Linked DNA regions of Homo sapiens: regions 1 and 3 are each linked to region 2. The links come from fine-mapping of genetic effects on gene expression. A gene starts in region 2. Each other region holds a variant in brackets. All regions are shown on one strand. Distances are between the middles of the regions.

The links. PIP is the estimated chance that this variant, and not a neighbour inherited with it, causes the effect. A credible set is the group of variants that fine-mapping cannot tell apart.
Region 1: its variant is the best candidate, but not a certain one, in a credible set for the expression of SDR42E1 in gastroesophageal junction (GTEx, PIP 0.64).
Region 3: its variant is the best candidate, but not a certain one, in a credible set for the expression of SDR42E1 in whole blood (TOPMed, PIP 0.50).

What each region holds. Positions count from the first base shown.
Region 1 is chr16:81,919,355-81,923,597 of GRCh38, reverse strand. It overlaps PLCG2 (phospholipase C gamma 2), which reads right to left. Exons shown (of 33, transcript NM_002661.5): 20 at 3,934-4,114; 21 at 2,329-2,400; 22 at 4-113. Among named protein-coding and RNA genes, the nearest start is that of SDR42E1, 90 kb to the left of the region's middle. The variant T/C (reference allele first, on the strand shown) is at 1,965.
Region 2 is chr16:82,009,774-82,014,016 of GRCh38, reverse strand. SDR42E1 (short chain dehydrogenase/reductase family 42E, member 1) reads left to right here and starts at 2,547. Exons shown (of 3, transcript NM_145168.3): 1 at 2,547-2,630. RefSeq lists enhancers at 2,203-2,282, 2,293-2,382 and a silencer at 2,623-2,772.
Region 3 is chr16:81,987,117-81,991,359 of GRCh38, reverse strand. It overlaps SDR42E1 (short chain dehydrogenase/reductase family 42E, member 1), which reads left to right. Exons shown (of 3, transcript NM_145168.3): 3 at 1-2,505. Among named protein-coding and RNA genes, the nearest start is that of SDR42E1, 22 kb to the left of the region's middle. The variant T/C (reference allele first, on the strand shown) is at 2,362.

The sequences.
Region 1 (4,243 bases), 90 kb after region 2:
TACCAGCCCCCGGGCTCCTTGGAGACATTGTGGATGAGGGCACCACGGCAGAAGCTCAGCTCATCGCTTCGCTTGGCTTTGTAGTCATACAGAGCTTTCACGGTTCTCTGAGGCTTTCAGGGAAAACAAGAAGGAAAAGGTCAGGCCAGGGACAGGAGGGGAGGGAGGCGGCTGCGTTCCCAGGTACCATTTGGTTCTTCTCATTGGGGAGCAGGAGGCTTCAGGCCAAGGTTACAAAGTCATCTGCTGGAGAGGGACTGGCATTGCAAAGGATCGAAGGCCCCAAAAAGCCACCAGGGAGTGAAGGAGAACTGGCCTAGTCAGAGCCAAGGGTACCTGGGTTGGGGTTAAGGGTTAGGGGTTAGGAGTTAGGGTTTGGGGCTAGGGTTTAGCGCTGGGGTTAGGGTTAGGCTTAGGGTTAGGGTGGGAGTGACCCTATATTGTAGTGACACAATATTGCTCAATTTCCTCAACAAAGAAAGGACATGCCTTTTAGATTAAGCCAAGACTGTCATCACAGTGCCGGTGCTCAGCAAGCCTCCCAGAAGCTCAAGGGCAACCCCATTCTTCCTGCCTGTCCTGAGGGCCTCATTGCTCTGTTTTTGTAGGTCAGCAGTCCCCTATCTACACTCCTGCAGGACCCTGACATTTTGCAAGAGTAACTGAGCTTCTCCTCCATGAAATTCATCAAAAGGTGGTCTCTGTTCACAGAACTAAATAAGATAGAACTTCCTTGGTTAGAAATTTTCTTCAATGAATTTGCTTTCATGCTTTCTGCCTGGCGGGCATAAATGAACACCCACACGGCAAGCAAATGTTAGTGGGAAAAGCTCTGACGTTGTCAAACCTGTTTAAATGAGCAGCTTCCTTCTCCTCCCACCCAAAGGAAATGGGAACAGGAATTTCACAGGGAACCTAGTAAAATTTTTCCTCAGAACACAGGCTACAGAGTCAGATATGTAGGTTCAAATCATTGCTCTGCCCTTGAATAATGATATAAGTTTGAGTCTCTCTGATCCTCAGTTCCCCCGTCTGTGAAATGGGAATTAAATTTTTATATATTTCACAGGGTTGTTAAGACTACTAAATGAGATCATGTGTATAATGATAAAACTGACAACAGCTTGCACTTCTTAAGTGCTAACTATAGTATCGCTAAAGCATTATTCCAAGCCTTAAGGTATCTCCTTTAATCCTTAAGCAACCATAACAGGTAAGTAGTTATATGAGTATGCCCATTTTGCAGATGAGAAAACTGAGATGCAGAGAGAGAAAGTAATTTGCCCCACATCGACCAGCTGTTTTAAGTGGCTCAGCCCAGAACTGGATCCATCAATGTGAGTTAGTGCCATAGTGCATGATGTTTCATAAGAAGCAATGTGGGTTCTAGGAGCTCTGCCACAGGGATCTGCAGCTGGAGGCCAGAGGCTAAGCAGTACCCTTGCCTTTCTCTCCCCCACCTGCAAACAGAGCAGCCTCTACTTGCGTATCCTGCTTCAAGGGTGGATATAAGGACCAGCCAGTCTCCAAGGCCACAGGAAGGAAAAGTCATCAGTTAGAGAGGTGACTGTTCTCATCGCCAAAACATCCTTCACTACTAACAAAAGTTTTTGCTACTAAGGTCTCTTAATGCATTTCACACACAGCTCAATTTGCCCACAACTTTTCAAGATTTCATTTCTTTCTGAAACAGATCTGCATTGGCCATGGATTATAAATTTTTGAAAAAGAAAGTCATCTCTGGATTTCAACAGAGCCCACAAGCAGGGCCCCTTCCTAAGTGAGCGTTGTACACTAATTGTGTGCCACATGGCCCCCAAACAGAAAATTCGCTGTGGTTCTTCCTCTGCCGGCTCAAACTAAATTTGAGATGAAAGCATGGCAAGGAGGAGCCGAGGGCTGAAAGTAAAATCCATCCCTACCTGCATGAAATTACACAACAGAGTCAGGGTGGGAATATGAGA[T/C]AGCATTTGCACTGCAAGGAGGTCAGTGAACCAAATGGAATTTATAAACACCACAGGCTCTGTCAGCGAGCCAAAAACATTTGAAAGACTTTTCATTAGAAGCCATTTGGCCCAAAGGTGGTTCGTCAAACCTCAGAATTTTAGCAAAACACTGTTGCATTTGGATGGAATTCTATTAACATTTTCCCTGAAACTAGGCTTGATATTATCAATCATCCTTTCTTCTCAAAAAAAAAAAAAAATTATTTTGGCCAGGTTTTCCAAAGTCTTCCCTTGCCCTGTTATAACTGCCATGGGAACAAGATGGAATCCACATCAGCCTCGTGACTCCAAAATCATGTGAATTGGAGGTTCGGCACCGTACCATGGACGGATTGATTTCACTGGGATCCACATACATTCTGCTGACGTCGTAGAGGGAGTTTATATCTCTTTCCTGGAAAAAAAAAGAAAGAAAGAAATGGAATAATCCATGCTCCTGGAATAGCCCTTACATATAACAAGGGTTCTAGGCTTCCTTATGGTTACCTATCCTTTGATAGAGGAGTTGAAACCTCATAGAATTTTCTTTTGGCCCATGAGTAGACACAGGAAGAAGCTATAAAGAAGGTCCCCAGACTTGGAAACTAACCCAAAATCAGAGAGGCCCTGTCCTGGCCTGCTGCGTGCCAGGCACTGCGTTCCTTTGTAAAAGCACAAATCCTAAGATGCGATGGTGTGCTGGAGTGACCTCCCGGCTCACAAAAGCCCACTGTGTACATCACTTCCTGACTCCACGTTCCAGGTTCAACGACAGCACATCAACAACTTGAAACTGACCTCCATGGAAGTATTTACACCATGGAAACTGGCAAATGCTACAAACCAGTGCCTTCCCCCTACCCCGCTGAGAGCTGTTTGAACATTTACTAGCACACCACTGACAAGATCCACCCCCACCACCTCTCTGTTCCTCTCTAACTCTTCTTTCTGTTCCTCATGTCACCTTAGGGCTTGTGATGTGGCCACTCCTGTACCTAGAGTCACCCCTTCATTCACTTCTCCCCAGATCCCATTCACTGCTATCTTCCATGTTTCGGCTCACATTTCTCCCCTTTTAAGGTGGCCTTCTCTGATCTCCACTCCCACAGCCTAAGGTAGTGTCCACCCCTTTTCACACTATCCTGTTTTCTTTGCTTTATTATATTTCATGCTACCTGAAAACATCTTAATTGTGTATATTATCTGTCTCTCCTCTCCAGAACCTAAATTTCCCAAAGCAGATTTTGTTCCACAGTACTCCTAGTATCTAGAACAGTCCTTGGCACATGATCGGGATGCCATAAATCTCTCTTCAATAAATTAATGATCTATGTGGTAGGAATGGAGACAAAGTAACCACATCAGGTCTCTCCTGCACCCAGAACTCTCCAATGACTCAGAGAAAAAGCCAGGGCCTTACAATGGCCTATGAGCCCCTGCATGATAAGTCACCTGTGAACCCTCATCCTTATTTAGCTCTACCCCCACCTGGGCTGGCTTGATTCCGGCCATGCTGACTTCCTCTTGGTGCCTCCAGGCAGGCTTCTACCTCAGGACCTTTGCGCATGCTATCCTCTCTTCCTCCAGAACATACCCACATGGCTCATTCCTTTTCAGTGAGATCTTCCTAGACCACCCTCTGAAAACTTCAACCCCTTCCCCATCACTCTGTATCCTCTTATCCACCTGCCCAGTGTTTTTCTCCATAGCACTCATCACCATCTGGCACATGCTATGGATATTTTAAATGTCATTTGTTGCATCTCCCCAACACTACACTATAAGCAGCACAACGGCAGGGTCTTTGTTGTGCTCAATTTGTATCCCCAGGACCTACAGCAGTATCAGATACATGGTGAATACTCAGAGGTTTGCTGAATTCATGAACAGATGAGTTACAACCTCAGACAAGAAATCCCACCAAATCACAAGGGAGTCCACCACCTACCATATTGTAGCGCTCCAGGAGCTCGGGGGTCACGGGGTAGCGCAGTCTCATCTTTCGGTAGAGTGAATGCTTCTCGTAGTAACTGACGAGCTCCACCAGACTCTCAAAATAGGCGGAGGTCCCCAGCACAAAGTGCCGGCCGTCCCGGTTGATGCGACAATGCTTTACCTTGCCCCTAGCCCTGGAGCAGGAAGAACACAGGGTTGACATGCCAAGATCCTGGTGGCCAAACAATTTTTACACAAACCCTACTGATTAGATACAACCTAGTTATCCAGCCTTAGAGAAGTGGGTAAATAAACAGGGTATA
Region 2 (4,243 bases):
CAGCCTCCCAAAGTGCTGGGATTACAGGCGTGAGCCACCGCACCCGGCCAGAAGCCTTGGCTTTTAATCACAGGTCTGTCATTTACTAGTTCTGTGACCTTGGGTAAGTCACTTAAACTCACCTGATTTCCAGATGCAGTGTGGAACTATTACAAGGTTTCTCTTACCCACCTCAGAGAGTTGTAGTGCTACTACTACTAAGTCATAGCACTTTTAGGGCAGTGCTTATCAGCCTTTACTATACATAGGAATTACCTAGGGATTTTGCTGAATACAGATTTGTATTTATTAAGCCTAGAATGGGATCCAAGACCCAACATTTCTAATAAGCTCTCAGGTGATGTTGATGTTACTGATCCACACTTTTGGATAGCAAAGTTCTCATGTGCCTACCAAGCTCACAATAATTTCCGTTCTTTAGAAATGACCACAGTTTATAGCAGTTCTTGTGTCCTTTTGCCACAGCTGACAATGGTAGAGGTGATTTCTGATCCAAGCTGGGCCAAAAGAAGGTGTCGTTTGCAAGCCTGGGATTTTGAACAGGGACAACCAGAAATGTGACATATATTCATTTGCTGATTCATTCACCAGTAAAAAAAAAAAAAAAAAAAAAAAAAAAATTCTGTCTCTATGCCAGACACTATAGTAGGTAGTGGAGATACACCAATCAATCAAGCAGGTCTCTGCACTCACGGAGCTTTCATTATAGCAACATGCAAGATAATTTCAGATGAGCTAAGTGCTGTGAAGAGATTGAAGAATTTCAAGGGGATGCAGGAGACTTTAAGTGAAAGTGTTGGGGAAAGCCAAGCTCTTACTTCCTCTTCTGTAGTGACCTTGGCAGCCAAGAGTTGAACATGATGGCATAACAAATGGGGGAAGCCTGGGTCCCTGAGTGATTATGTGGAGCACAGCACTCTTCCCCTTCCCTGCAGACTGAATTGGACTGTGATCGGAGTGAGAAATAAAATACTGCACACCTGTGAGTAATTGTGACAGCAAACTGATCTTTCTGAGATGCATCCACTGCCTGGACATATTATTGGGGGAAGACAATACTAAACAAACACTGATATACAAACTCACATTGAAGTTAATTTCTTTCTCCAGTCATTTCTGTCTTAGATCTCTTGGTCAGACCTTTATAAAATCAACTCACTAAATTATGATGGAAGCTAAGGAAGCAATTATAGAGTTTGTAATTTTCCTTTAAAACACGCCTGATTATATTTTAAAAGAGTCCTCGGTGGCACAAGAATACTAACATTTAAATTCACCATTTCTCATGTTTATCCACACACTCTAAATCTGGGTATCCCTCAGAGGATCCTGTAATTCCCCAAAGGAAGTCTGTCTTCTTTACTGCATCCTCAGTGGGTCTTTTCTTCCTTAGCTGCTGGCCTCAAGAGCATATAGCTGGTCTCTCAGCCCCCTGAATACCCTTCCTCTTCTCTTCTAATTTTTATGTATCCTAAGCAGCCACTGCAAAGCTGTTCTTTAAGACTGCTTAGCACAAGAAGTCTCCTGTGACTTATGCCTGCCTAATAGGTGAGGACAAGACAGGCAGGAAAGCCAGAGCATCCTATGAGAGAGGCCAGTGCCAGGGACTGGCACTTCTTGATTTCTTCACCTGGGCTTCATTAATTTTTATATCCTAGGACTTGAGCTTTGTCCTTGTGACTGTGTGTGCTTAGTGAAAACTGAGCAGTAAATCAGGCAATTGATATGAACCTCTCTGAGTCTGCCTTTGGTACCAGATCTATCGGCAAGAGCACCACATGAAGTCAAAACTTCCATCCTCCAAGACACTAAAATGAAATCCTCCCCAGCCAGGGGTCCATTCCAGGATGCATGTCCATACACGTGTACAGTCTGCAACCATCCACAGAACCACACTCATGATGAGGAGACAAAAGATGGGCCTCAAAAGGAGACCTCTGAGTGAGGATGCCAACTTTCCTTTCTGCATTCCTTGGTTCCTTCAGCAACAAAGATTAGTCTTGGCATCACTGCCTGCTTGGCGACCAGAACAAAGAGAAATAAGGAAAATTAGGGACACAGGAAAACCTATGGGCACACATAGATATGGAAACTCAGAGATAATAGAAACTTAAAGAGATACATGGAGAGTGAATATTCTGCCTCCCTATAGAGCCTTTTCCATCATCCATCCACCCAAGCAATGCTGACCTGAGTGCCTATTTATCAGGCACTGGTCTTGGCCTTGGGGATAAACAAAGATGGAGGTGAAAGTCTAAAAGCAGACACTGGAGGTGGGAAGAGCAGTTGACGTGGCCCTAACAGGGTTCCCACCACGGCGGAACGCACAGACAGGGGACGTGGGGGAAGACGTGACCCTAAAAGGGTTCCCGCCACGGCGGAACGCACAGCCAGAGAACGTGGGGGAATTCATGAAGCGAACCTCCTGCTACCTCAACGCCGGTGAAGGTGAAGGAGACACCTGCGCGTCATAGAGACTCCGAGACCTCCAGGCTTCCTAGAGAGGCCCGGAAGTGGCTCCAGGAGGCAGGTCCGACGGCTTCGGCGCCCCAGCTGTGGTGATGGGTAGCTAGGAGGCCTGGGCCTCTCTGCCTGCTGTAGCCGTCTGCCGCGCCCTTGTTCCTGCAGCTGTGAGTGGGCCTGGGCTGGGGTTGGGGGGCCGCCGCCCTTCCGCGGGGACCCTGGACCGCCTCGGCCTGGAACGCGACAGGTGGCGGTCCCGGGGGTGGGGGACGGTGGTGAATGACTGAGCAGGGTGGCGGGAAGGAGTATCCCCTTTCAGATGTCTTCCTGATCCCAGGGGACCGGGCGCAGCTTGGCTTTCTAGAATGTCGCCAAGGCCTCAAACACTGGCCCTCCGCATTTTTTGTTTTTAAGGACATCGGGGCCCCAAGCTCCGAACTTTCCACAGGTGGCTGGCTATACTTGATTCCTGTCTTTGATTTTCTGCACACTTTGGGAGAACGATTACCTCCTCTTTATCACTTGGTTCTGGTTTGCCACTTAAAAGTGGCAGTGACAGGTTCCCATTTAAACTGCATGTATTTGTTGGGAAAAGGTAAGTAGGTTTAAACAAAACCTTATAGGCTAGTCATAATACCAGATGAATCAGATGTGACAGAAATTGTGGAGGTGGAGTGAGCCCTGAAAATCTGAGACGGGTCTCAGTTCATTTAGAAAGTTTATTTTGCCAAGGTTGAAGACATGTACCCATGACACAGCCTCAGGCGGTCCTGACGATGTATTCTTAATGTGGTCAGAGCCCAGTTTCGTTTTCTACATTTTAGGGAGACATGAGACAAGAACAGATGTAAGATGAACATGTTTTTCGGTCTGGAAAGGCGGGACAACTCGAAACGGGGAGGGGGCTTCCAGGTCATAGGTAGGTAAGAGACAAATGGTTGCATTATTTTGAGTTTGATTAGCCTCTCCAAAGGAAGCAATCAGATATGCCTTTATTTTAGTGAGCAGAGATACATGAATAGAATGGGAGGCAGGTTTGCCCTAAGCAGTTCTCAGCTTGACTTTTCCCTTTAGCTTAGTGATCTTGGGACCCCAAGATTTATTTTCCTTTCACAGTGATAAGATAATGACCTAAGCGAATCTGTATTGTCCCAGCCTTATTGTGCGGCATTACATGTAGTGGTTAAGAGTCATACAGACCCGGCTTCAAGTCCTGAACCCTGCCCAACCCCTTATGACCTGCATAATTTGTGGGCAAGGTTCCTAACCTCTGATCTATTTTCCTCATTTCTGAAAGCTGATGATAATACTAGTAACAACTTCGGAAGATTGTCCTGAGGCTTAAATGCTAAACCTTTAAACTACCTGTATTAATCCATTCTCATGCTGCTAATAAAAACATACCCAAGACTGGGTAATTTATAAAGTTAAGAGGTTTGATGGACTCACAGTTCCACATGGCTGGGGAAGCCTCATAATCATGCCAGAAGGCAAAAGAGGAGCAAAGTCACATCTTACGTCTTATATGGTGGCAGGCAAGAGAGCTTGTGTAGGGGAACTCCCCTTTATAAAACCATCAGATCTTTTGAGACTTATTCACTATCAAGAGAACGGCATGGGAAAAACCCACCCCTGTGATTCAGTTACCTCCCACTGGGTCCCTCCCAGGACACGTGGTAATTATGGGATCTACAATTCAAGGTGAGATTTGGGTGGAGACACAGCCAAACCATATCATTCCGCCCCTGGCCCCTCCCAAATCTCATGCCCTCACATTTCA
Region 3 (4,243 bases), 23 kb after region 2:
CATTTGCAATTAAAGTAAACTATTTGTTACAAAAAATGAGTAACTGTAAATAGTGACTTCTGCTACACAAACTAAGTTACAGAAGCAAACCATTATTTTGTCATGTGAGTATGTATTACGTAGAGCTGAGGTGTGTGGGCGGGGGGTGCTGTTAATCTACTGGAATTCCATGTATTTTGTGAGGAGCATGGATGTTAGAGCCATACTTAATAGCCCAGAGGACATCCTCCAGGAAGACTTGTTTGTGTACCTAATCAAATACTGATATTGGTCACATTGCACATGTCCTAGTCTCTCCTCTAAATCAGTATCTTGAGAGCAGAGCCCAAGTATTATTCGCTGCTGATGGCTCTTTGCCTCCCCTGCAGTCTTACACTATTCTGGGCGTGGAGCACAGACCTAATAAAAATCTTTCGAAGTAATGAAAATGCAAAGTCCAGCCTGTAGAGGTGCCCTTAGATGTTTAAATTCTCCCAAAGAAGGGTGAACTTTTTACAAAGCACTTCACAGTGGAAGTGTCTCTGAGCACAGCAAATACCTTAAGTTTGGGCCCAAGTGGAAAAGAAATATTTGGTAGTGGGTGATTATAGCCCTTCAGTGCTCAAGGGACTCATGCATTTGCTTGCACTTCCTTATGCCTGTCCTGGAGCCATCTCTTATTTGCAATGTGACTTTGAGCAAATGCCTCTCATCTGTAAAGTGGAGATAAAACATTCCCTGCTTATCTCTTGGGGGAACTTGTATGGATTTAATGGCACAGAGGCCTTTTGTAACCTGTACAAGAACTATGCACATGGATCCTTAATTAATAGTGTTTCTGCTGGGAAAGATGGAAGGGTTTGGAGGGGAAGCTGGTGTCTACAGGAAGAGATGCAAGACATGCTAGTGGAGTTTGAGACGTTCAAATGGAATGTTCAGTAACTAATTAGCAACATAAGACTGTAGTTTGAAAAAAACAACTGCATATGCGGGTAGAGATGGTTCAGTGAAAATGTTTCATTGATTTCCTGCCATATAACAGGTATTAGTTTATTTACCGTGGCTTTTCTTTTTTTCTTTTGAGACATGGTGTCACTCTGTCGACCAGGCTGAAGTGTAGCACTGTGGACACAGCTCACTGCTGCAGTGCCCTCCTGGGCTCAGGTGATCCTCCTAAGTAGCTAGAACCACAGGTGCACCAGCACACCTAGCTAATTTTTCTGTCGTCTTTTGTAGAGACAGGGTCTCACCGTTTTGCCCAGGCTGGTCTCAAACTCCTGGCCTTAGGTGATCCTCCTTCCTCAGTCTCCCAAAGTGGTGAGATTACAGGAATGAGCCACCGTGCCCAGCCTACCATGTTTTTTTTGTTTGTTTGTCTGTTTCAGACGGAGTTTTGGTCTTGTGGCCCAGGCTGGAGTGCAGTGGCACAATCTTGGCTCACTGCAACCTCCGCCTCCCAGGTTCGAGTAATTCTCCTGCCTCAGCCTCCCAAGTAGGTGGGATTACAGGTGCCCGCCACCACGCTCAGCTAATTTTTGTATTTTTAGTAGAGATGGGGTTTCACCATGTCAGCCGTGATGGTATCGAACTCCTGAGCTCAGGTGATCCACCCACCTCGGCCTCCCAAAGTGCTGGGATTACAGGCTTGATACCATGGTTTTCAATTACTCAATTCAGTCACGTTTTGAGCTCTAAACTGAAAATGAGTTTTTCTTTTCTTGAGATTGCAGAGTCAATTACACCATGCTAGAGAACAAGTAGGCATCTATGCCTCTCTGCTCTAAATTTTGATGTCTATAAACACCCATAGCGGTGTGTGTTGGTTTTAAATTGTGGGGCTAGAAAGCCAACCCAAAATCATCAAGCTTTTATTTCTACACATTCAGAGTGCTTCTGTGTAACTTAGATTTAAAAGTAACTATACAAATAATGCATAGATGTATTTTTCTTATATAATGTTAAAATATTACGGATAAGGCCAAAGACCCCTTTTACTAATGTCCCCAAATTTCATATATGTATATATTTGTATAGAAAACAGGGCTGTGGTGTTCATGTCTTTCCCCATACTACTGTCTCCCACCTCACAGTTCCTTCTGCTACTACGGTTTCTCACTCAATAGTACAGCATGGTGATCTATTGATATTAGTATATATTCTTTATTTGCTGACATAGGAGGTCACCGGGTATATAAAGATGATAAGCATATGTCCTAGTTGGCCTAAGACAGTTCTGGTTTCATGCCTGTAGTCCCACCTTAATTTTTAATAGTGCTTCCTTTCACTCTCAGGTATGTCCCATTTTGTATAATAAATTGTACGATCACCCTATATATAAGACACATAGTTATATGAAGAATTAAGCATTTTTCATAACAGATG[T/C]ATTAGAAGTTATTGTGAACTGATTTTGAGGGGAAAAAATCTCATTTTGTACTAGAATAGAATATAGTAGAAAATCCTGAATTCTGGGTATGTAGCAGTATTCTACCAACATTGAAATATTAATAAAAAATTACCTAAAGAAAATCTTATGTATAGTTTTTCAGTGCTTCTTTTGTGTATCCCTCAGCAAAATAGATTTACTGGTGGAAGAGTAGATGATCTGACACGCGGTCGTATGAAAGCAAACACTGGTTCGGTGGTTCACCGAACACTGGTAACTAGGAAAGACACAAAATAAAATATATCTGAACGAATTCCTCTACAGCACATGCAAAATAAAGCTAATATCAGTAGCAAACTATAATAAATTTGAATAAATTCCTCTGCAAGTAGCCATTGAACATGTAAAAGAATAAATATTTAGTCAATATTGGTACAAATTATGCAGCATAATACACTAGAAAGAATTCCAGTATCAACCTTGCGAAGGCAGCAAATTTAACTATATCACAGAACACTACAGTATTCAAGAAGCAAAAAGGAAAACATTTCGGTGAATTCAAATGGAACTTGATTTTCCAGTAAGTATAGCAACATCAGTCCAAAAGCATTTGTGAAATGCATCATATATGTTTTGCTTTTCATTTTCTCCAAACCTAAAAAGCCATCTAAAATGCCTGAGTATAGGTAATTCTCCTTATACTTAGCCGTCATTGTGTTAGTGATAGAGTCGATAACAGCCTCAAACAACCTCCTTCAATTGTCCTTCACAATGTTGTGGTTATTACTTCAGTAATTTTACTGCCTCAAACCTAGTAAACAAATAACATGGCTTTGCCTCGGCCAGCCCTATTAAGAACAGAGGTTAGGAACAGGTGGCACTGCCAGCTCCCACCCCTACCCCAGGCTGCCCAAGAAACCTGTCGTTCCCCAGCTGTTGATAGAGTCCTGTGTGCCACATCAGAACTTTCCTAACTTCTGCTGTCCACCTACCTCTGATTATGCTTCATGTACCTCCCCAACTTCCCTGCCAGTCTCCCAGGCATAGGCATGACTCATCTACCAGCAAAGGTGAAATCTGAGTTGGTAGATCTAACGCCTGGACTGCCTTTCCATTCCCCACCCTGGACACACATTCAGGGCACAACTGGCGCCAAGGAAGGAGGCTCAGTATGTGAGCTGGGTGGCGCCTGGCCTAGAGCTTGCCTTTGTAAGAACACTAGATGATTGCTACTTTCTCAAACAACGATGGCATAGAATATGTCTTATTTATGGCCATCAGATAAGGTAGATATACCTAGTTCTTAACAGCTGAACAGCATTCCATAGTGTAAATGTACCATGGTAGATTAAGGCATTTCCTTATTGGTGTTTATTCCGTTTGTTTCTAGCTTGCCACCTTATCAGACAGCACAGGCATGGATGCTCTTATATATATATATCTCCTTACATCCACGTTGAAATGAGCTGCTAGGATAGACATCCAGAAGTGGAATTAGAATTTTAATAGGGACTACTGTATCAGACATGCATTCAGCTGCGCATTTAAAAATTATTAACAGTGCCTTGAACAGTAGTTTGTTGTTTTCATGTAACAAGGGGTCCGGAAGTAGGCATACGTGGGATGACGCAGCTCAGTGGTAACATCAGGGACTGGCCCCATCTTTCGGCTCTGTTGGATCCTCATTCTAATGATTCTCACCGCGTGATTCTGAGAAGGTGGCTGCACCCTCAGGCATTATTACAGGCAAGAAGAAAAGGGAAGATAAACAAGGCCAAAGGGAAATGCCAGCTGGGTCTATTTCTTTTAAAAAGCCTTCCTGAAAGCCGACTCCAATTTCTTCTACTGGAAATGAGGGAGGAAGATGGGATTATAGGTGGG